Homo sapiens: one gene and its partners. The protein of the gene in region 1 interacts with the protein of each later gene in a pairwise test. Each region holds a gene or a part of one and is shown on either strand. Other genes may lie near its edges.

Region 1 (2,491 bases):
TCTCTGCTTGGAATGCTTTTTCTCTTTCACCCCTTGTCTATCTGGTGGACACCCACTAATTCATCTTTCAGAACTGACCTGAAGGCTCTCCTCTGAACCCTTTCCTCATCCCTTCCTTCCTTTCCCTTGTCTCGTCTAGTGAGAGTACTCAGGGGGTTGTGTTTGTCGGCCTCCGGCAGATGAATCTGAAAGCAAGGACAGTGTCTTGGTTTTTTATCCTTAATGTCTAATAAAACATAAAATGTGGCAGATAGGAAGCATTGAGTTAACCATTGAATGAATGCATGGAGACTCTAGCCAAGGTCCCTCACCTCAGCCCCACCTCCCTATGCTCCTCAGGTCTTTCACAGAGACCATGAGCTCCCTGTCCCCTGGGAAGCCGTGGCAGACCAAGCTGAGCAGTGCGGGACTCATCTATCTGCACTTCGGGCACAAGCTGCTGGCCCAGTTGCTGGGCACTAGTGAAGAGGACAGCATGGTGGGCACCCTCTATGACAAGGTGGGGACCTGAGGACAGAGATGCCCCCCACATGCATTTCCAGCAGGCCGCCTGGGAGCAGTGCTCACACAGCACTCAGCACTGGGCCTCGGGTCAGGGTTCCTGGCCTATAGCAGGCCCAACACTCATCCTCTCCCTCAGTCAGGCTCATCTCACAAGGGAATGGTGATACCTCCCCTGTCTACATCCTGGGGTGGTTGTGAGAAGTGGATGCTGTAATATATGGGGAAGGGCTTTGAAAACCATAAAGCAGCATGGCCCCGTCTTTTTATTGACACACACAAACAGCAATTGCTCAGCACCTTTGGGTAAACAGAGGGGAGGCTGCTTATGTGTGGAAGCAGATGGCTCAGAGGTTCTGGCTGCCCTGAAGGTTGAGGGGAGTGTATGTTAGGCACCACTGTAGTTCACTAGTGGCACATAAATTGGGAAGCTCAGCTGAGAAGAGTTTTATTATGAAACTGTCTTTGGATTCCACCAGTGTCCCCTGCAAGCAGCTTCCTGCTCTTAGGGAAAGAATATGGCTAGTGGCCCTGGCATGCAAGTCAGGTCGCACAGTACTGAGGACACTTACTTGTTTACAAGTCAAAGCCCAGGTTCAGTCAGCTGTATTTCTTGCAGGTAGGCTGTTGAATTCAGTTCTCAGTTTTTTTGTTGTTTTTTGTTTTGAGATGGAGTCTTGCTCTGTCGCCCAGGCTGGAGTGCAGTGGCGCAATCTTGGCTCACTGCAAGCTCCGCCTCCCGGGTTCACGCCATTCTCCTGCCTCAGCCTCCCGAGTAGCTGGGACTACAGGCGCCCATCACCATGCCCGGCTAATTTTTTGTATTTTTAGTAGAGGTGGGGTTTCACCGTGTTAGCCAGGATGGTCTTGATCTCCTGACCTCGTGATCTGCCCACCTCAGCCTCCCAAAGTGCTGGGATTACAGGTCTGAGCCACTGCACCCGGCCCATCAGTTCTCAGTTTTAGCTTGCCCATTTTCTGCCCTCTGTAACTATAGAGTTTTTGGAATATCAAGATTTTAGACTGCCTGGGTCAGTTTTCCCTTCCACTGCTGAAGGGTTTCTAAACAACTGACTAAATTTTTGTTGTTGTTTTTTTTTGTTTTTTTGAGACGGGGTCTTGCTCTGTCATCCAGGCTGGAGTGCAGTGGCACAATCTCAGCTCACTGCTACCTCCGCCTCCTGGGTTCAAGCGATTCTCCTGCCTCAGCCTCCCAAGTAGGTGAGATTACAGGCGCCTGCCACCACGCCTGGCTAATTTTTTATTTTTAGTAGAAACGGGGTTTCACCGTGTTAGCCAGGCTGGTCTCAAACTCCTGACCTCAAGTAACGCACCCACCTTGGCCTCCCAAAGTGCTGGGATTACAGGCGTGAGCCACTAATCCCAGCAACAATTGACTAAATTTAACCCGTATTTTTTTTTGAGAGACTGTTGCCCAGGTTGGAGTCCAGTGGTGCCATCATGGCTTGCTGCTGCTTTGAACTCCTGGGCTCAAGCAGTCTTCCCACCTCAGCCCCCCAAGTAGCTGAGACTACAGGTGCATGCCACCATGCCTGGCTAATTATATATCTTAATTTTTTTGTAGAGAGGGTCTTGCTATGCTGCCCAGGCTGGACTCAAAAACTCCTGGGCTCAAGTGATCCTCCCACCTCAGCCTAAACCCATGTTTTTTTTTTTTTTTTTTTTTTTTTGAGACGGAGTCTCGCTCTGTCGCCCAGGCTGGAGTGCAGTGGCGGGATCTCGGCTCACTGCAAGCTGCGCCTCCCAGGTTCACGCCATTGTCCTGCCTCAGCCTCCCAAGTAGCTGGGACTACAGGCGCCCGCCACTACGCCCGGCTAATTTTTTGTATTTTTAGTAGAGACGGGGTTTCACCGTTTTAGCCGGGATGGTCTCGATCTCCTGACCTCGTGATCCGCCCGCCTCGGCCTCCCAAAGTGCTGGGATTACAGGCGTGAGCCACCGCGCCCGGCCTAAACCCATGTTTTAACT
Region 2 (3,500 bases), on another chromosome or scaffold:
TCAGGTCCGCACGGTGGCAGCACGGGGGCAGGACACTGGTGATCAGTGCTGCTAGGGTGAGGCAGGAAGGGCTGTGGTGCAGGACAGGTGTTGGGGTAAAGGTGTGGGGTAGTGCCTTTCATAGAGACAGGGTCTGGGCCTCTCGCCAGACCTCACACCACACTCCTCTCGGATGGAGCTACCGTTGACTAATCTCCCTCTTTCCCTTCTCTCTCTTGTTTCTCTGTCTTCCTTCCTGGCTTTTTCTCTCTGCATGTGGCTGCCTGTTCTCTTCACCTGCCTGCTTCTGCTTGGAGATGGGGGATGAGCCTGAAGGGGTATGGTTCAACCCTTGCGTCACCAAGCCTTCGTCCTTGCTCCTCCCGAAAGCGCTGGCCCAGCATCCCAAGGGGCGGGGGCGGGTGATGTCACAGCAGCCTCCACCTGCTGAGCCCCTGCCTTGGTCCAGCATCCTGGCAGCCTCTGTCTTGACCACCTGGCATCCGGCTGCCACTGGGCCCCATAGCCATGGATTCTTGCCCAGTCCTCACCACCCCATGACACGTCGCCTTGTCATCGCGGGGATTGCCAGCCCTCAGTCCCACAACCCTTCTCTGATGTCCTGGAGGGAGAGCACCCATCTGCGTAGCATGTCTCCACCCAGCCGTGTGTCTTGGGACCTCCTTTTATCCATAGGCTGAGCGTCAATTTGGGAGTGTCCCCAGCCCTTTCCCAGAGGTTACTCCTAAGGCTCAAGGCTTGCAGGGCACGGGAGGGCTCAGCCTCTCTTCTCCACCCACCTCTCTCTGTCTTGTTTCTGTAATTTAGAGTTGATATGGAGGCTGTCCTGCCCCCTGCCCCCAGTGTCTTCTAAAGAGCCAGGTGGCTCTACTCATTCCCAGACCCTGATGTCTTTGCCTCTTGACGCCCACCTCTGACTCTTTCCCTCCCTTTCCAGATTGGGGGCACCAACTTCGTGGCACCTCCAACAGCAGCAGTACCAGCCAATCTTGGAGCACCCATCGGCAGTGGCCTGAGTGACCTCTTTGACCTGACCAGTGGCGTGGGCACCCTGTCAGGATCATATGTGGCCCCCAAAGCAGTAAGTCACTTGTCTTCTGTCTTGGCGGGAGCAGAGAGAAGTTATGGAGACTGGCATGTGGGCTCCTTTAAATGGCCTCGGCTGTGGAATTGGCTCAGGCCAGCAGTGATGAGGGAAGCTGGGGGCCACAGGGGCACCGAGGAAGAGGAGCTAAGTCAAGCTTGGTGGGTACCTAGGAAGGCTTTCCAGAGGAGTCGCAGGACCTCAGTAGCTGAACAAAAGCGGATAGGGGCTCCAGACCAAGGGAACAGTCTGTGGTAAGGCCTGGAGGGAAGGGAGACCACGGCCTTTGTGAGGGAATCAGCAGAGGCCTGTCAGGTGGGAGCAGTAGTTCTCAGTGCCATCAGACTCAGCACCCCTTAGTCATCATAGACATTTTACATTGTCACCATTCCTCTCCTTAAATGCAATTGGTGGGCTGTGTAACCTACCTACACATAGCATTCCAAAAATACTCAGATGCTTTCACTGCATGGAGGAGACATAAAAGGGAGAGAATACAAGTGTATGTATCAATGTTATAAACGTCTGGGCACGCCTGCCCGCTCACCCCAGAAGACATGAAGTTGCCAGGTGTTTGCTGCAGGGCAAAGTCACTGTGACTGTGGCAACCACAGTCTGGGTGTTTGTAGCCTGGACCCCGTGAATGGTTTGGCCAGTGGTGCCATTTGTTTCTGAAGTGGTCACTGACTCCCAGTAAGGTTTGGAGTAAGATAAAGAACAGGCTTCCCTCGATTTTCCTGAGAATTGTGTTCCTGGAAGTCTCAGGATATGTTGAAACCATGCAGAAAATACTGGAAGGATGCAGGACAGTTGCTTGTTGTGGGGTGGTTGTCCCCATGGTAGGATGTCCAGCATCCCTGACTCCAGCCCACTACATGTTATGCCACCTGAAGATGCCCACAGATGCCCACTATGCCACCTAGGGCACACCCCCAAGACTCCTGGCTAGACTAGGGATCAGTGAAGGAGGAAGCTGGCAAGGCTGGCGGGCCAGGCTGAGCGTTTCTTCTTGATCCTGGCACAGCCGGAGCCATTGGAAAGTTTTAAGCAAAGAGATGAACCAGTCTGATTTGCACTTGAGAAAGATGGCTGCGTCTGCAGGGAAGGGGTGGGGCAGAAGCACCGGCCCCGGGGGATTCCGTGGCAGGGAGGAGGAGTGCTGGGGCAGCTGGACCACGGGGGCTCTTGTGGGTGGAAACAGCGGCCAGACTTGAGAGCTCCCTGGGAGGGAGGAGCCGGGGCTGAGGGAAGGAGAGTTGAGTTTGGGATGTGAGGACATGCGGGCCTGGCACTGAGGAGAGCTCAGTGTGGGCCATGTTGTCAGTGTCAAGGAAGCTGCCAGAGGGGACCAACCAGGCCTGATCCCCTCATCACACTCAGATCAGAAGTTGTGTTTGCCAGAGCTCCCCTCTCTCTTCTGAGGTCCCCACCCCAAAGCAGGATACAGTTGGCGGTCAGGGGCAGTGACAGCTCTGTCATGACTAGGGAGCCATGAGCCAGCACCTCCCCACCCCCTGAGCTGGCTTTCCCCACCATATGCCAGCTGCACCTGCAGTGGTGGTGACTGGAGCCCCTGGCAGGGTCTGGGCACTGAGAGGCCCACAGCAGACAGCAACTCGGACACTAGTAGCCGCACACTTCCTTGTAGGGACAGCACAGCATTCCACAGCCACCGCCAGCACGTCCTCCTCCCAGCAGCCCTTTGTGGCTCTTCCTCCTATTTCGTGGTTGAGAAATCCTAGTGCTTTTGCCTAAGGTCACATAGCTGGTGACAGAGTCTGGAAGTGAAAGCAAGTGACACTAAAGCCTCTGCTCCAGACCCCTATATGATGGTCCCCACAGAGCGTGAGAACCACCTGTGCACCTGCCTTCATGCGTGGGGTGTCAGGGCCAGCAGGGCCACGGGAACGTAGAATCGCGGCATAACGTACAGCATGTGCAGTTGACTTACTACCTGGATTAGCTGCACCAAGGCATGAGGCCAACTCGTACTCACCAGAAGCCCAATATCACAGGCATACAAAGCAGGACTAAGGGACAGAGAACAGCAAAGACTCCTGTAACCCTGTGGGTGCCAGCCCTTGCCAGGCACTGCAGAGCTGCCAGGAAAAATAAGCCTGGAGCTGGCCTTTGGCAAGCTGGCACTAGGCTTGTGTGTTCATCTTTTTTTTTTTTTTTTTTTGAGACAGAGTTTTGCTCTTGTCACACAGGCTGGAGTGCAATGGTGCGATCTCAGCTCACTGCAACCTGTGTCTCCGGGGTTCAAGCGATTCTTCTGCCTCAGCCTCCCGAAGTAGCTGGGATTACAGGCACCTGCCACCATGCCTAGCTAATTATTTGTATTTTTAGTAAAGACAGGATTTCACTATGTTGGCCAGGCTAGTCTTGAACTCGTGACCTCAGATGATCCACCTGC
Region 3 (2,289 bases), on another chromosome or scaffold:
GAGCCGAGGTAGAGGGGGAGCAGTGGTAAGATGAGCGAGCAGTCGACTCTGGTTGGAAGGGTCCAGGGAAATGGGGTCACTCGGGGACGTGGGCCGCCTCCGGGCGGGCAACGCCTGAGAAGCACGCAGCGCTCGGCGCCCAGTGCGCCCCCACGAGCGGGCACGGCGCCGGGTCTGCCCGGAGCCCGCAGCGCGCCCGGAGGGAAGGCCGCAGCGAGCCGAGGCGCCGCCGCCCGCTGGCGCGGAGAGGGCACGAGCGAACAAGGCGCCTTTGAGAATCCACCGCCCCCCCTTCCTCCTCCGGCCGGCCCCGCCCCCAGCCTGGCACACCCTCTCCCCCCCTCCCCGACAAAGCTTGCCTTGTGTCCCCCACCCTGCGTGCACCTCTTGGGCCCCACGGAACCTCGGCGGCGGCGTCCAGGGATCGCGTCCGGAGCTCCCAACCGGATACCCCCCCCAAGCCCGAAACGGCGCTGCCCATCCTCATACAGTCACCTCAGTCCAGAAAACAGCGATTTTAATTTGAAAGCGATTTTATGTATGAGAGGGGAAAGGAGCCCCAAAGAGAAGGGACGCAGGGCAAAAATCATGCAGCCCCAGCACCCCACCTCTGCGGGCTGGCCACCTCCCCTCAATTCTCAGGCCAGGATCCTGTGTCCCCAGCCTATGCTATGTGCCCAGGGCTGGAGGAGAGCTGTAAAGGGAAGGCCTCCGGGACTACACTCGTGAAACCATCCCCTGTGGGGGCCCTGTCCTCACAGCCCAGGCCCCTTCCCCAAGTTAGACAGGAAGAGATAGGGGGGGCGGCGGGAAGCTGGGAAGGCTAGTGCTTGGAGAGCCCTAGGGACAGGCCATTTCAGGGCCCTGCCTTTCCCAAACACCCACCTCCACCACTGGCATTTCTTAGTCAACCTGGGAAAGTACAGTACTTCTTTGAGTCTAACTGCAAGTCTCTATCCTCACAGGAAATTAAAAATAGCAGATCGGTTCCTACATCTCCACCAGCCCCTTCACCACCACCACCACCTTTTTTATATTTCAGTCTGACTGCAGAAGGAGGTGAAGTGTAAAAAGAGACTCTGGACAGTGACAGGGCCCCTCCCTCTTCCAGAGAGGCCCCCATCTGCCAGGTTTGAGAGGAGGAAGGCCTGTCAGGGCCCTACTCTCATGTCCATCAGCTTGGGAGGCCTGCCCCCCAGTATCCACCTCTGGGGGAGTTCCCCATTTCCACTCTTCAGATGGGAAGCAAAATGAGGCAAGATGAGAAGGAAGCAAGGTCCTGGAGGCAAGGCCAGTGCTTTGTGCTGGGGGAAGGACAGAGGGTGAGAAATCACCCCAAATCATGGGAGAACCCGACAAATTCAGAGACTCAAGGCCACCGAAGAGAGACAACCAGTCCTCACAGGTATCTGGGGTCCCTTCCAACTTGGGATATCAAGCAGATCCCTTGGAGGGTTTATGTTCTTGGTTCTGCCCTGTACTTCTCACCCCATCAAGGTTCTGGGAACATGGCCCCCCACCCTGCCCCAGGGCTTGGAGTCCCTCTTGGATGTGTGCTCCTCCAGTGTGAGAAGCACCACGTCTGGGTCTGAGCTCAGGCCAGTTGATGGGGAGCCTCAAGCATCTCCATGAGGAAGGTGTCGATGGGGGTGTCACCAATGAGCTTGAAGAAAAACAGATGCTCTAGACACTTAAGGCCAATGGACCGGAGGGCAGGAAGACGTAGCAGCAGCTTGGCAAACCTGGGGTGGAGGTGGGAGAAGGGGATTGAGAGCTGGAAGCACACGGGCCCTGAACACATCCTCATAGCACTCCCCACCCCCAAGGGAGCCTCAGTGCCCCCCAGCCCCATCTCACCGTCCCTGCTGCTCAGGGTACTTCTGTTTGCAGTAGGTCTCCAGTGATGCATACACTTTCTCCCGCAGGACCTCCACCTCACTAGGGTTGGAGAGGCCCTTGGCATCTGGGATGGCAGGGAAGAGAGGAGGAAGAGAAATGAAGACAAACCAAATCAGGATGGCCATGCAGATGTGAGCCACAGGATGCCCCTTTTGGGCTGCACTTGCTTGCCCTTTACCAGAGGCCTGGCAAGGGAAGCAGGGCCCACTGGGTTTGTGGGATGGATCCGTGGATGTGGGTTTTTCCTCGGCCAGTTGGGAGATTTCCAGGTTGAGGGTCTTACTGAGGGGGATAGCTGGGTAACTTAGGAGTCTCGGAGAAGAGGAGGCTCCAAGGTTGCCTTGGCCTTGAGAGACAAAGGTAATCCTCCTCTTACCTGGATTAAACAGA
Region 4 (3,960 bases), on another chromosome or scaffold:
TCTTCTGCCTAAAGGAAAAGGATGCTGAGCATTGGACCGTTTCATCACAAGAAGGCGCGACTTGCTTTCCTAGGGTTCCTGTGGTATTTGTTTTTATCTAATTGAGTTTAGATAAAATCTCTACTGAGGCAGTAGGATGGACAATGAAACTTTTTGAGGATCCACCTTTTAACTGAAAGATTTTAGGGAGGAAATGGAGTGGGCAAAGTAATCAAAAGAACAGGCATTCTCATTACCATCTTACCAAGCCTAGAAGCAAACAGAAGAGCAAAACCTATCACTTAATGACTTCTGGAGACCATATTAGACAGGCAGCCCTGATTTTTAATCTCCTTTCTTAGCATGGTGGAAAATGAGAGAGAGAAAAATGCCACTTCCCCATTTCTTAGTGTTTGTTCATCCAGCACGAGCCGGAGAACAGTAAACGCTTGTTCAATGGTTTCACTGTTCACACAAAACTGGAAAAATGGGTTGCATTAGCTATTCCTTTTATAAATAAGATTTCACTCTTTCAAACTCCTAGCTGACCAGTGAACTGAGTAAAGAAATAGCTCTCACAAGGGCAAAGGAGTGAGGCAGCCTCTTGCTATTTCTCCTGAGACGGTCTGAAATACAGCTCCTCGCTTTAATCCTGAGGCAGGTGTTTGTGTCTCCGGATGAGGACACCCAGCTGGGAAGGCTAGCGACGCCCCCAGGGCCACCTCATGGGTGGCAGGGCGCTCTTCGGAGCACGGCCACCTGCCCGCAGGAGCCCTCCGCTCTCCGATTCCAGGCGAGGGGAGGCGCATTCGGGGCCTCGACTTCTGGGAACCCGGGGTGCCGCGGACCCGCCCAGCAAGGCCCCTCGCGGGGCCCGGAGGACGCCAAGTGCAGGGTTCAGTGGTCGTGCCCCAGTCGGGTCTACACTCAATGGCTGTGCGCCAGCTGTGGGCAGGGGGTCCACACCCGCGCTGTGTCCCCGCGCGTTACCACGGCGCACCTCGCGGACAGTGGGAAGGGATAGCCCCACCATCAGCGCCCACTCCGCGGACTTCACGGACCACTACCGGGTCCGAGAGAAAGGCTGGTGAGCATGCGCGCATTGCTACGGCGGCCGCGCTGACGCACAGGAAGCGGGCGGGACCGGACTTCCGGCTGGTCTGTGGGGTTTCGGGTTCGGGGTTTCCTGGTGGGCGTCAGGGGCAGGCAACAGAGTGGCGGCCGCTACGGCCCTGTAACAGGGCCATGGAGAAGCTGCGGCGAGTCCTGAGCGGCCAGGACGACGAGGAGCAGGGCCTGACTGCGCAGGTAGCGAACTTGCGCCCTCGTCCAGTCCCGGGGCTGCCCGCTGGCCCCGGCCGCACTGAGGACCGGCCGAGCGGGTGGGGTGGGTGCGAGGCCGGGGGTCTGGGACTCCTCTGCCCGGCTGGTTGATTTAGGAGGGCTCCGCCTGCTTCCTGGGTAGAATTTGAGAACTTTCCAGTTTTCCATGCGGTCTACTTAAACCCACTTTGAGGCCCCCCCCCGACTCTCCCATCTGGCCTTCTGACTTAGGAATCCGCTAACGTCTGCCCTCGCTTTCCCAAATAATCCATCGCTCCCACGTACTATTTGGTTTTCTGAGCCTGGTGCGGGGTCTGGCCTCGGGCTGTGCAGCGTAAGTAGCTATGCAGGGCATTTATCCTGCAAGCTGCAGTGAGCCGAGACCCTAAAGCTTGTTGCATCTGTTTGTCTTTGGAGGTAAAGGTGGTGTTATGTGTGTGTTTGCTGGGGGGTGGTCTTTTGGAAATAGGGAGACTGGAGGAAAAATAAACAGGACATTGGTAAGTGAAATAATATTGAATTAAAATTTTTCTGTTAAGGCAGTGAGCCCTGGTAAGAGATTTTTTTTTTTTTCTTAATAAAAGCCCTTGTGTCTGCGCCTTACCAGCGAGACTTGATAAGGGTTACTTCCTCCAGCAAGAAGGTTAAAAGTAGCAGTGGAGCAGGAACTGCGGTGTAAGTTTTTTTGTTATTGCATGCGATTATATTGCACGTTATTGTGTGCTGTCGCAGAAGTTGGACGTTTAAAATTGAATTGTATTTCATAAGGATCTTCTATTTGTCTCTCCTGACTTCCTTGTCATTATACTTACTCAGCACTTGGTGTGGGTAGAGTTCTGGGCTACAGTTTTGGGTTCAGAGAGTGTAAGACAAGTATCTGTTCTCATTGCACTCTGTAACTCTGTATATTACCACAGCCACATGTGGCCAATGAATTTTTTTTTTTTTTTTTTTTAGATGGAGTCTTGCTTTGTCGCTCAGGCCTGGAGTGCAGTGGCGTGATCTCGACTCGCTGCAACCTCTGCCTCCCGGGTTCAAGCAATTCTCCTGCCTCAGCCTCCTGAGTAGCTGGGATTACAGGCACCTGCCACCATGCCCTGCTAATTATTTTGTGTTTTTAGTAGAGATGGGGGTTTCACCATGTTGGTCAGGCTGGTCTCGAACTCCTGACCTCAAGTGATCCGCCCACCTTGACCTCCCAAAGTGCTTGGATGACAGGCTTGAGCCACTGCGCCTGGAGCAATTAAATTTAAATTAATTAAAATTAAATAAAATTTAACATTCAGTTCCTTAGTCACAGCAACCACATTTCACATGTTCAGTAGGCACATGTGGTTAAAGGCTACTGTATTAAACAGCGCAGATACAGAACATTTGCATTGCAGAAAGTTCTATTGGACAGTGCTACTCTAAACTTTGGAGATGCAAAGGTAATATCACTTATCTTGAGCCCACTGTCTAGAGGGGAGAAAGATATGTGGAGAAGTAATCAATCAAAGATTAGAGTGACTGGCTGTATAGACAAGTGCTGTGAGTTCAGAGGAGGTGATCGTTCATTAACAAATATTCAAGTTCCTGCATATGTTTGACATTGTTCAAGATGCAGGTGTTAATAACAGTGACCAGTGCAAATACCTCTTTCACATGGAACTTAAATTTTAATTGGAGGAAACAGTGAATAAACAAGTATATAATGTGTCAGACAGCCACAGAAAAAGTCAGAGCAGGTTGAGGAGGTTGGGGTTGCCATATTACTTAGATAAGGCCTCCCTGCCAGGGAGTCATGTGAGCACAGCTCAGAAGAGCTGCTGGGATGTCTGAGCATCCTGTGAATAAAAGCCTCCAAGGCAGATACAGAGTCCCAAGTGGTGTGTGGTCAGCATGTTCAGGGCCAGTAAGGAGGCCAGAGGGGCTCTAGCAGCGGGGCAGAGAAGAGGGACAATTGTAGAAGAAAAGGTGAAGCAGGAAGGGGGATTCTCAATTGTGAGGGTTCTCATAGGCCATAGAAAGGATTTTAGCTTTACTCTGAGTGTGATAGGAAGCCTTTGGGTTTAGAGCAGAGTGGTGGTGTGACCGACTTGGATTTTAAAGGATCACTCTGGCAGCTCTGTGGAGAACAAACTGTAGAGGCAATGTTAGAAGCCCAGAGACTGGGCTGGAGACAAGTACAGTTGTCCTGGCAAGAGATGACTGTGGCTCAAATCAGTGATAGAAGTGGTTTAAAGAGCAAAAAAGCCTGTTTAAAAAACAAAAAAGTGGTCAGATTCTGTAAATGGTCTGAGTGTACAGCCAGCAGGCCACACTGTTGACGGATTGGATGTGTGAGAGTGGGAGGAGGCAAGGATGCCTCATGGCATTCGACCTGAGCATCTGGAGAGGTGGAGTTGCCATTAAGTGACTGTGGGAGGAGCAGGTTCAGGGAGGAAAATCATTTCAGTGTGGACGTGAAGTCTGAGATCCAGGTAGCATCCAAGTGGAGATGTGAGGAAAGCAGTTGGACGTAACACTGTAGAGTTTGTGGGAGGAAATAGGAGAGAGATGAGATCGTCAAGATGAGGTCCAAGGTTTGACCTCTGGTTTTCTCTAGGTGTGTAGAAGTTTAGAGGATGAGCAGAAGCCGGCAAAGACAGCTGAGAGGCGTGGCGAGAGAAGGAGGAG
Region 5 (3,500 bases), on another chromosome or scaffold:
CTGCACTAGTTAAGGCCCTCTGTCTTGTCACAGTTGTAAATTAATTTAGAAAGAGCTGTCTCCCTGAGGGCAGGGGCTGGGTTTTTCTTTACACACCTGGACCTAATTCTTCTCTTCTTCCATCCATTAGTAAGTGTTTTGCTGTGTGCCGTGCATGGGGATAATGAGAACAAGAAGTTATGTTCTTGTCTTTAAGGAGTTTGTCGTCAGCCAAGGAGACATTTACAAAAGTCCCCGTTGTGGTCAGCGCTGAGAGGGAGAAGGTTCTAGTGTTAAGAGAGCAAATCACTGGGGTGTCTAACCTCGCCTGAGGTGAAGGTGGGGGTTAGAGCAGTCTGAGAGAACATATTAGTAACACAAAGTACTCAAATCTGGAGCACATAAACCACTACAAATCAATAAAAAAAGGAAGGCAGAAAACTCCGTAGAAAAACTAGCCAGTGATTTGACAGACACTTGACAGAAGATACCAAGTGGCCAGTGAACATGTGAGACAGTCACAATTCCGTGTATTCATCAGTCATCAGGGAAGTCAGAGGACCTGGGTTAATATGAGACATTGGGCCACGCATTGAACTTCCCAGATCCCGTTTCTTATTTGTAAATGGGGCTTCTCCTGTCCCTTCCCTTCCTCCCAGTACTGCTCTGAAGCTTGCATGGGAAAGGCTCTTCAGACCTTGCAGGGCTATACAGATACTAAGTAGTGTTGTTACTCTAAGTGATTTACTTTCTCCTCCACCTCTTCTCATAGCAACTATTCTGAATTCCCCTATGAAAGAAAATACTTGAGTGGTAGGATGGTTCCTAGGATTCAGAATAGCCTGTCCCTTGATACTTTGGGTAAAGAGCTTGCTGCTGGCATGGCTCTGGTTCCCTCACCCAGGCTGGGAGCAGGGTGACTTCCTGTGGGTCTTTTGTCACCCAGGGCCTGGTGGCAGGGAAAGGACTGAGGTGCACCAGTCCTGGCTCGAGCGTTGTCTGGAGTAGGCTGTCTGGTTCGTTGTCCACACTGACTGTGATTGACCTCCTCACAGAGTGCTCTAGTGAAGTCCGGAAATAACACTCTGGACTTGGGACATGTTGACATTAACAGGTCTACAGGGGCAACAGCCTCACCACCTGGCTTCCCCTGAGAGAGCCTGGTCAGTGCCATTGGCTGCCCTAGCAGGCTCAGGGATAACCTCCTGTTAAAACCGGTCCCAGCCTCCCTTTTGCATTCTTTGGATACAAAGGAGCCATGTTCTCTCTCTTTTGGATCTGCCCTCTGCGGTTAAGCAGATGGTACGCGGTGCAGATGCACACCTCTCTTCCAGCAGAGTGTGGCTGGCCACCTTGGCACATGTCACAACAGTGTCAGGATTGCTGCTAGTCCTGTCAGTCCCATCACCTGACTGTGCCAGGTTCTTAGGCCCTGTTTGGAGTCTTTCCCCACAGATCTCTCATGACAGGCATAGACTTCTCAATGGTCTACTCGGCACTTTTGACCTTTTTCTCTTCTGTATTTCTGCCACTTAGGAGTCAGAGTCAGAAGCAAAGGTAGATGGAGAGACTGCATCGGACAGTGAGAGCCGGGCAGAATCCGCACCCCTGCCAGTCTCTGCAGATGATACCCCGGAGGTCCTCAATAGGGCCCTTTCCAACTTGTCTTCAAGGTAACCTGGCTTAATGATGCAGGTGCTTGTTGGGGGCTTTGCACCATGTCCAAGTGCCCTGGAAGAGCCTGCAGAGAGCCCGTGGTCTTGCAGAGCAGGCCCGCTGTCTTGCCTCAGCCTCCCATGCCACTGCTCCAGGCTCCATTGAGTGTAATCTAGTGCTTAGCAGTGGCAGTGAGCACAGTGACCAGGAGGGGAGGGCAACCAAGGCTGGAAGGATCTGGCCCCGGAAGGGTGCTTCAGACTGGACTAGGAAGTGCAGTTCAAAGAGGAAGAGGGGACAGGAGGGATGGAGGTGGGTGAGGTCAGCTGACACTGCACAGCACAGGAAACCAGCCTTGGGTTTGCGATTAATGGGCAGGCTGCTTTTCACTGAGGAGTCCACGTTTCCAGTTCAGAGTTTAGTTTCTCTCACATCCTTTGTGAACAGTTCCTTAAATTCTCCAGGAAGAACTGGGAAACATCTTAACCTAGGTGAATCTAGTGTTAAAACTTTTGGCCCTTGAGAACCTGGTTCTTTTAACACAGCTATGTGAGTAGATCAAAAACACATTATAAGACCCCAAAGCATTATCTCAGTGTTCCTATGTGTGCCTCCAACTGTCCCCTTGGGAGTCTGAATTGTGCAGTGGTTAAGGGCGTGGACTTTGCAGCCAGACCCTTGGATTCAGATCCCAGCTTTACTGTTTGCCAGCTGTTTGACCTGTGCCTCCATTTCCTCATCTGTAAAAGCGAAGTGTGTTGAGGATTGAAGGAGTTAATATATGTAAAGTCCTCATAAAATTACCTTACTCAGGCCGGGTATGGTGGCTCACGCCTGTAATTCCAGCACTTTGGGAGGCCGAGGCGGGTGGATCAGGAGGTCAGGAGATCGAGACCATGGTGAAACCCCGTCTCTACTAAAAATACAAAAAAATTAGCTGGGTGTGGTGGCAGGCGCCTGTAGTCCCAGCTACTCGGGAGGCTGAGGCAAGAGAATGGCATGAACCTGGGCGGAGCTTGCAGTGAGCTGAGATTGTGCCACTGCACTCCAACCTGGGCTACAGAGGAAACTCTGTCTCAAAAAAAAAAAAAAAATTATGCATATTTATGGTAGCTGTTATTATCATTGCATAATGTTACTATTATTCCCATAATTATTCAGGGCAGTGCAGTGTAGGATCCTGCTGCTGGAAAAAAATATTTTTTTCTTCAGATAGTCAGCTGTAGAAACCATCCAAGTGGATACAGAAGCAGAGGGCACTACATTTCCCTTGGTTTTTTTGTTTGTTTGTGTTTTGCCTGATACCTTCTTTAAGATATAAGCTAGGTTTATTTTTTGCCAAGTTTGGTTGTGACTTAGGCATTGGTACTAGTGGTCCTGCTCCTGCCAGCATGTGGCTGGTGCCTCCGTCACGGTGAATCTGGAAAGGACTGAGCTCAGGGCCCTCATCTCAGGAAGATCCATATCCCTTGAGTTTGTGCATTGGTTTTTTTCTGGGCTCCTAACTGGTGTTTTCTCCTTCCCCTGCTCTCTGACCTAGATGGAAGAACTGGTGGGTGAGAGGCATCCTGACTTTGGCCATGATTGCATTTTTCTTCATCATCATTTACCTGGGACCAATGGTTTTGATGATAATCGTAAGTGCCATTTCACACTATTTTAGTTTTCCCTTCAGTTTTTGCTGCAGGCCCGGTTGTCTTAAGTGCGAGGTGTTGGGTTGGTTGTGGGAATTGACGGGGGTCCAGGCTTCTCAGAAAACCTCTGCCATAGAACATCTGTGACTTCCCACTTCTCAGTAGCCACCTGGAGGGTCATTGGTGTAGGCTGGTTGTTTATGGTTGAAGATGTCTCAGTGTCTTTTCTTT
Region 6 (3,500 bases), on another chromosome or scaffold:
AAGGCTAAGGCATAGAAGCTGACTAGGGGTTCTTTTATTTGGATCTTACATCTCAGAAAGCTCTTTATTTAAGTAAGAACCAAAGTTATGTGACATGAAAGGACTCTAGAAAGGTAAAAGGTAACAATTCTCCTCTCATTGGTCCTGGTGCTTTCTGGTCCAGAGAAGGAAATACTTGGAAGCCATGAGGATTGCCTTTTAAGCAAATAAAAAGATCAGGACTTAAGCACCTGCAATAACAACACTATAAACAAAAAATAAAATGTTGGAGGTAAGAAAGGACACCTCACATAAAGGCATGTCAAAACAAGGGATGGGAGACATTGCCAATCATAGACTCTACTATGCCTCATCATTTCCTTCTACCTAACTCCCAATGAAAATGACTGCTGGAGTAAGGCACTGTTAATAATAGGAATATGTTATATCCTTCAGGTGCGTGAAAAACCACTTTCATAGACACTGTAAGGAAGCAACTTAGAAATTTAATAGCAAGAGAAATATTTCAACACTTCTCTGACTGTGGAAGGAGTTATTTTGAAGGTATTGAGCTCCCTCTGTCAGATCCTTTGTGAATTGCTTGTCAAGCAGATGTGTTACCTTCTTTCTAAAGATTCCCTTCAGATTACTACATCATTAACAGAAACCTGTGAAGCTCTAAATTACACTGCTATAACAAAACTATACTGAAATAACTATTTCACATATGATTGAACTTTAACAATTTTAGAGAAAAATATACTCTTATTTTAAGAATTAATTTGGAAAACCTATAACAAAACCAGACAAGAAATGCATTCTAAGTAGGTGGTTTGCTAACTGTGCTCCTTTGGGGTTCCTCAGGAGATGGCAAAAGTGGGGAACCACGTGTGGGCTGAGGTGTAGATGGAGTGGGGAAGGCTGGAGGGTCAAGAGCCTCCCTAATTTTTCTTGAACCAGAGCTACTTTGATTTTATTTGTGCTACATCTCTAAGAATCCACAGCAGATTTCATGTCAAAAATAGAGTTCTAATGCTGAAATGCATTTGAAAGCCTCTGCTCTATACAGCTATTATATCTGCCAAAGGATAGTGTTAACATACTCTGACATCTGAAGATCCAGGATTTCCAACATTTAGAGCAACTTCACCTATAAGCCCCACCTTCTCCCATGTTTTCCCTCTCTTTTCACCCTCTCATTTTCCTCTTCTTCCCAGCCTCCTCATATATCATCTCTTCCCTCATTCTTAACTCTCTGTGGCATAGAACTGCTGTATATTTGTGTTTGTGTGTTTACCACTGGTCAATAACAAGCAAGCATGTTAACTATTCTTCTTAAATTAAGTTTCTTTTTCTTGTGGATGGTGTAGTCAATCAATAAAGATTTTTCTCAATGATTATTAGAAGCCTTGACTTGTTTCCCATAGCACAAGTGGAAGGAGAACAGGAAGAATCTGCAAAAGATGTTTGTGTTACAAATCAAAGGAAAAATGTTATACTTCTGGGCATAAATCTTTAAATTTAAGAGGAGGAGCCTTTAACCTTAAAGTGAAATATCACAGACTTCAATATCCAGAGGCAAGTGGATAGGCCATATAGGTTAGAAAGAGCTCTTAAACCATTCTACTGACATAAGTAGCCATGCAAGATAACCAGCATCTACTAGGCAAAGCCACCCAGTGAAAACACAAATTAGAAGTCTAAGATTTAGTCTCTGCCCAAAATAACAAGGTAGAGAAATGTCTATCTCCAAAAGTGACCCAAAATGACAAAAAAAAAAGCAAGCCATCTCTGGCTCTTAATACTCAGTTCACAAAGAGAAGAATAAACAATGAATGGTATAAGAGCTTAGACGTCAGTTAGTATGAAGAGGAACAGTATGTGGAATTTGTATAGGCAGAAACCATTTCAACTGGGGGGGTGTGGTGGAAGGTATAGGGCAGAGCAACTAGTTCTGCCAGAATGGCTAGGAAAAAACTGGGAAATACAGAGAGGAGCCAGATGGTAGCTCACTTTATCCTACAAACCCTTGGAAGCTGTCAGGCATTGCACAGACAAGGAAATGGCAGAGCAAAAAGTCTGAGGGTAACCAGGTGACTTTCACAATTACCTGAAAATTCATGACTTATATTTATACAGAGCTTTCACGTGCATAATCTCACTTAATTTTCACAACAATCTTGATTGAAATCTATATTTCTGAACTACTTCCTCTCCAAACTAGACCAAACTAAGTCCAGCTAATAAAACCAAAGCTCAAGTTCTATTAAGATTTAACTCAAGATATTCAACCCCAGGGACTCTCGGTTAGCTTTTTGAAGATGATGACTGAGGGATAAATCACCTCATCTCCATTGCTTTTATTTTTATGGATTAAAACCATAAAACTGGTTTTAATCAATCAATAATTAATCAGATTGGCATAATCTGTTGTTACAAGATTATAAAATCCAACTTTTAACCTACCTTCTCTTTGAGAGGCTCGTGACATGTGTTTCTCAGAAGAATTAGAATCACTATGATGACAAGGTGAGCCAGAAACTCTAGGACCAGATGAACTTGATGAAGTGGTCAAATCTTAAAAATATAAAAAATTCTGACAATAAACCTAGCATAACTCTGGTAGTGGCTCTTAACTTTTTAATTATCTACTCGAACCATAGTTTTAAAATTTTGAAAAAATGCTCATATATCACTGGCCTATAAGACTGAGGAAGGCAAGACAGCTCTTTGAAGTGTTCTAAGATCTAGTCCCTTTCTGAATCTTTTATATCAAAGACTTGACTATGTGAAATAAAAATGAAAAACCAAATAATCATAGGAGCGTCTTTGGATCCTCATGATTTCTGTACTAAAATGGAACCCAAAAATTCCATGAAAATGAAAACTAAGCTCTTAAGCCTATTGTTTTATGTTAAAATAGGGTCCAAACAACAGGCCCATTACCAGAAACATGAAGAGATTCTTCTTTAAAGTATACCAAAAACTTCCATTATCATTCTTGAAATTACGTGAATAGTCTTTTTTTTTGAGACAAGGATCTTGCTATGTTGCCCAGGCTGGACTCCTAATTCCTGGGTTCAAGTGATCCTCCTGCCTCAGCCTCAGCCTCCTGAGTAGCTGGGCCTAAAGGCATGCACCACTGTGCCAAGTTTATGTGAATACTGTGAAATGTGACATAAAGTTTACATTGAAAAAAATAAAATGAGTATCAGGTAGTGGAGTCTGATATATTACTCCAAATAGCAGTGTCTATTTCATCATCACATTTTGCTAGTGGTCCCATACCTATGTTAAGAATTCTTACTAGTCTAATTTCCTGTAATGTTATTTAGTATCAGAATTACCATTAGAAAACTGAAAACCTTGTTGGTTTTTGAGTTGAAATAGGCCAACTAGACATTCAAAATCACTATTTCTCACTAAGTTAGAGTTGCTTATCATGTTTAACTTAAAAGGCAAATTTGAATCTCAAAGGATTATACTCGTATATTTATGAAATCCCTTGTTTGCAAGTAAGT
Region 7 (3,500 bases), on another chromosome or scaffold:
CTTCCTTGGTGCTCCCTCTGGGCCCCTGATCCTTTGTGAAGGCCAGTCAGGTTTCCCATTCCTATTGTGTCTTATAGTCCACTTGGTAGATGGCGTGATCCGTCTTTACACAGAGGGAGCCTCATCTCCTCCTGGGCCACATTCCTCCTGCAGCTCCCATCGCTCCTTGGCCAGGACCCAAAACCTTCTGTGACTGACCCCTGCTGACCTCATTCTCTCTGCTCCTCCAGTTCCAAGCCTAGCCCCCCTGCCCATCTTGCGGCTCACACTCTTGCCCAAGCTGTTCTCCTCCACCAGGATGCCCTTGGCTCCCTTTTCAGCTTGGCAAATTCGTGCTCACCCTTCAAACCCCTACACAGATGACCTCCCTTGGAAAGGTTTTCCTGATGTCGCTGCCTCCTGGAACCAGGTGGTCTTGCCTCTCTGCGCTGCCTTTGGGACCTGTATATTTGTCAGTGTGGCATGGCTGCCTGCCTCCCGTTGAAGGGCAGCATCTTGACTTTACTCACCTTGAGATCGCCTGTGCCCAGATGGGCCTTTGGCCTGGCCCAGAATCGGTGGTCATCAAGGGTGTACAGAACTCACCAGGACCCAGGAACCTGTTGCAGATAAAATCACTCTCCCCCACGTTCCCAACTTTTAGACTCACAGCCCTCTTACTTCCCAGCATTCAAACTTCTAAATGGCCTGTATGTATTCACAAAGCAGGCAAAAAGCCCCCAGAGGAACACCACCCCCCACCCCTGCCTCTGGAATACATTTGCTTTGACTTGGAATTGTAGGTGAAATTCATCTTCCTGGCCTACTTCAGTTTGAATCAGTTGGCTAGCCAGGTGCGGTGGCTCATGCCTGTAATCTGAGCATTTTGGGAGGCTAAAGTGGGTGGATCACTTGAGGCCAGGAGTTGGAGAGCAGCCTGGGCAACATAGCGAAACCCTATCTCTACTAAAACTACAAAAATTAGCTGGGCGTGGTGGTGCACACCTGTAGTCTCAGCTACTTGGGAGGCTGAGCTGGAGGATAGCTTAAGCACAGGAGATGGAAGTTGCAGTGAGCCGAGATCGCACCACTGCACTCCGGCCTGGGTGACAGAGTGAGACCCTGCCTCAAAACAAAACAATTGGAATTGGATGGCATTTAGTGAGCATCTACTATATGCCAGATATTGAGCTGTGATCTCTAGGGGTAAAGAGACATGAACTACTGACACCGTGCTTGCCTTCAGAGGGCTCACAATCTAGTGAGCTTGATTTCTGTGAGTGCAGAGCAGAAGCTGAGGTGGGAACAGAGAAGTAAAAAATGGACACACCAGAGGCAGAAGAGTGACAGCCTCCCAGCTGTTTGGGGCAGTTGAGTATGGTGGGGAAATAGCTCAAGCTGTCTTTGCAGCCCCTGAAGACATCACTGTACCCTATTGAACCATCTCAGGGTGATGCTATTGTTACGCTGATCCCTGCAACGCTTGCCTGTGCCCCAGCCCAGGATCCTGGCAGCTGCAGAGAAAATGGCAGTAACACTACCTCAAACCAGGACCACGCCCTCAGAGCCTGCACCCTGGGCCACCTGGGAGTCAGAGACCTTCACCTGGGCTATGGGGTTCTGGGTTGAGGCTGGGGTTCCCGGCCTAGGGAAGGGCTTCCGGGTTGAGGCCGGGGGTCCTGGCCTAGGGAAGGAGATGCCCCTGTGTGCTGGGTTACAAGGTCATGGCCCTGGGAACACACTTCCTTTTCTTTCTGGGTCATTTCTGCCTCTGCAGTGAAGGATGCCACAGGGTACACCCTCTCTGCTGTCATGACTCAGGACAGGAGTTCCTGGTCACAGCTGAGTCTTCGGATGAGGTGAGGGGTAGCATGCTCCTGTGCTCTGTTGCCTAAGGCAGGGCAGCCTACAACCCACGTTAGAAACAGCGTCAGCACTAAGGGCTAAAATAAAACTACTTTCAACATTTAAAGGGGTCATCTTCATTCACCTGCAAATTCTTTTCTTTAAAACCACCCCTTCCCTCGGGGCAGGATACGTGAGGCCTTACGCCTGACGGGCACCAGAGGCCCTCTTCCGGAAGTAAGCCCTCACTGCAGTGGCATGACCGTGGGGTGTGCTGTGTGGTGCTGAATCTCAGGAGTGATTCCCCACACCCCTGAACCACAACCGCAGTGGCTTTAGACTTAAACAAGAGCCTCTGGTTGCTGGGCCTGCCAGCAGGAAGATGGTAACCCTGTTCTAGAGTTAGCATCTGCAGGGGGCTTGGGGTAGTGGAGTGAGATGGTGAGACCCAGGCTTGGTCTCCCTGGCTCTTGCTGCATGATGGGGAGACCACACACCTGATCTGCCCAGGAAGGTCCCGGTTGACACCGACTGCCTCTGCTAAGTTATTAGGAGGCCCCTTTCACGCTCGAAGATACCTCATTTGGATGATACAATGTTACCTTACCTACTCTGTGACCTTTGACAAGTCTGGTTGCCTCCGTAGCCCTCAGCTTTCTCATGTGCAAATGACAGATGAAGTGCGCATATCTTGGAATCTTGGAAGTGATGGGGGTGTTTGATGGGACCTATCTTGTCAATGCCCTGCAGCCAAAGACCACTGGGAGCACACCTCACCTGTGGTTAACAAGCTGGGTTTCTTCTTGCAGTAAGGGGGAATGAACACCACAGCGAACCAGGGGGAGTCTCTGAAAGAGGTATTAGAAAGGACTTGTTACTGGATTTGGGCCAGTGCTCAGTGGCTTGGCGAGGGTTTAAGAAGCAGGCCTTTGCTCTGAACCGGCTGCTGTCAGGAGGCGGGGCTCATTCTATGACTGGGTGTCTTCTTCAACCTTATCTAGGATAAAATAAAATCATAAAACACTGTGCTTCATGCCCCTGGCCTTGCCAACTTGCAGTCCCCTCTAAGAGCATCAGAGCCTCTGGGGCACCCCCTCTCCACTGGGAGAGGGGCAAGGTGCTGGTGAAGGTCCTGGGGAGAAGGCTGGGAGGCTCTGAAAGGGTCAGGAGGGGCCTTTTGGGGTGGCAAAGCCTGGGATTCTAGCGTTCAGCTCCAGGCTCCAGGTGTGTGTGCCAGGGTGAAAATTCCTGCTCTTGGTCACTCTCCTGTCAGGTTGGAGGGACTCTGGAAGTTTCCACCCTCTGGAGAGGGAAAGGCCCTGGAGGGATGGCCCCTGCCCTTAACTGGAAAGGGTGGGCAAGGGAAGGCAGGGGGCCCAGGGGCAGGGAACCTGGGCTCTGCCGACCGCTCGCCATGACCTTGGGTACATCACAGCCCTCCCTGGGCTCCTCTATTCTCTGTAAAATTGGGTGAGGGTGGGCAAGATTCCACTTCTGCTCCCAGTCCCTGAGCACTGTGTGCCTGTCACCATGCAAGACACCGTCACCCCTATTACCCTATCTAGTCCGTGAAACAGCCCTGGGGGACCGATCTGTCGACCCCACATTGCAAATGTTTGTTATAAATCCCAGGCTCCAGAATCAGAAAGACCTGGTTTTACCTTCAGCCTCAGCCA

The links.
Region 2: the proteins of MYG1 (region 1) and AP1B1 interact in binary tests that used the Homo sapiens proteins (3 or more experiments, as listed by UniProt).
Region 3: the proteins of MYG1 (region 1) and RXRB interact in binary tests that used the Homo sapiens proteins (3 or more experiments, as listed by UniProt).
Region 4: the proteins of MYG1 (region 1) and SFT2D1 interact in binary tests that used the Homo sapiens proteins (3 or more experiments, as listed by UniProt).
Region 5: the proteins of MYG1 (region 1) and CDS2 interact in binary tests that used the Homo sapiens proteins (3 or more experiments, as listed by UniProt).
Region 6: the proteins of MYG1 (region 1) and DCAF10 interact in binary tests that used the Homo sapiens proteins (3 or more experiments, as listed by UniProt).
Region 7: the proteins of MYG1 (region 1) and BSND interact in binary tests that used the Homo sapiens proteins (3 or more experiments, as listed by UniProt).

The regions. Positions count from the first base shown.
Region 1 is NC_000012.12:53,302,695-53,305,185, forward strand, and holds part of MYG1 (MYG1 exonuclease precursor), read left to right. Parts: intron 1-339; coding exon 340-499; intron 500-2,491. UniProt on the Homo sapiens protein: 3'-5' RNA exonuclease which cleaves in situ on specific transcripts in both nucleus and mitochondrion. Involved in regulating spatially segregated organellar RNA processing, acts as a coordinator of nucleo-mitochondrial crosstalk.
Region 2 is NC_000022.11:29,336,571-29,340,070, reverse strand, and holds part of AP1B1 (AP-1 complex subunit beta-1), read left to right. Parts: intron 1-296; coding exon 297-317; intron 318-937; coding exon 938-1,081; intron 1,082-3,500. UniProt on the Homo sapiens protein: Subunit of clathrin-associated adaptor protein complex 1 that plays a role in protein sorting in the late-Golgi/trans-Golgi network (TGN) and/or endosomes.
Region 3 is NC_000006.12:33,193,088-33,195,376, forward strand, and holds the end of RXRB (retinoic acid receptor RXR-beta), read right to left. Parts: coding exon 2,276-2,289; intron 1,964-2,275; coding exon 1,858-1,963; intron 1,743-1,857; coding exon 1,595-1,742; 3' UTR 501-1,594; downstream 1-500. UniProt on the Homo sapiens protein: Receptor for retinoic acid. Retinoic acid receptors bind as heterodimers to their target response elements in response to their ligands, all-trans or 9-cis retinoic acid, and regulate gene expression in various biological processes.
Region 4 is NC_000006.12:166,339,746-166,343,705, reverse strand, and holds the start of SFT2D1 (vesicle transport protein SFT2A), read left to right. Parts: upstream 1-1,160; 5' UTR 1,161-1,224; coding exon 1,225-1,287; intron 1,288-3,960. UniProt on the Homo sapiens protein: May be involved in fusion of retrograde transport vesicles derived from an endocytic compartment with the Golgi complex.
Region 5 is NC_000020.11:5,172,008-5,175,507, forward strand, and holds part of CDS2 (phosphatidate cytidylyltransferase 2), read left to right. Parts: intron 1-1,515; coding exon 1,516-1,652; intron 1,653-3,175; coding exon 3,176-3,272; intron 3,273-3,500. UniProt on the Homo sapiens protein: Catalyzes the conversion of phosphatidic acid (PA) to CDP-diacylglycerol (CDP-DAG), an essential intermediate in the synthesis of phosphatidylglycerol, cardiolipin and phosphatidylinositol.
Region 6 is NC_000009.12:37,856,297-37,859,796, reverse strand, and holds part of DCAF10 (DDB1- and CUL4-associated factor 10), read right to left. Parts: intron 2,557-3,500; coding exon 2,446-2,556; intron 1-2,445. UniProt on the Homo sapiens protein: May function as a substrate receptor for CUL4-DDB1 E3 ubiquitin-protein ligase complex.
Region 7 is NC_000001.11:55,008,933-55,012,432, forward strand, and holds part of BSND (barttin), read left to right. Parts: 3' UTR 1-3,500.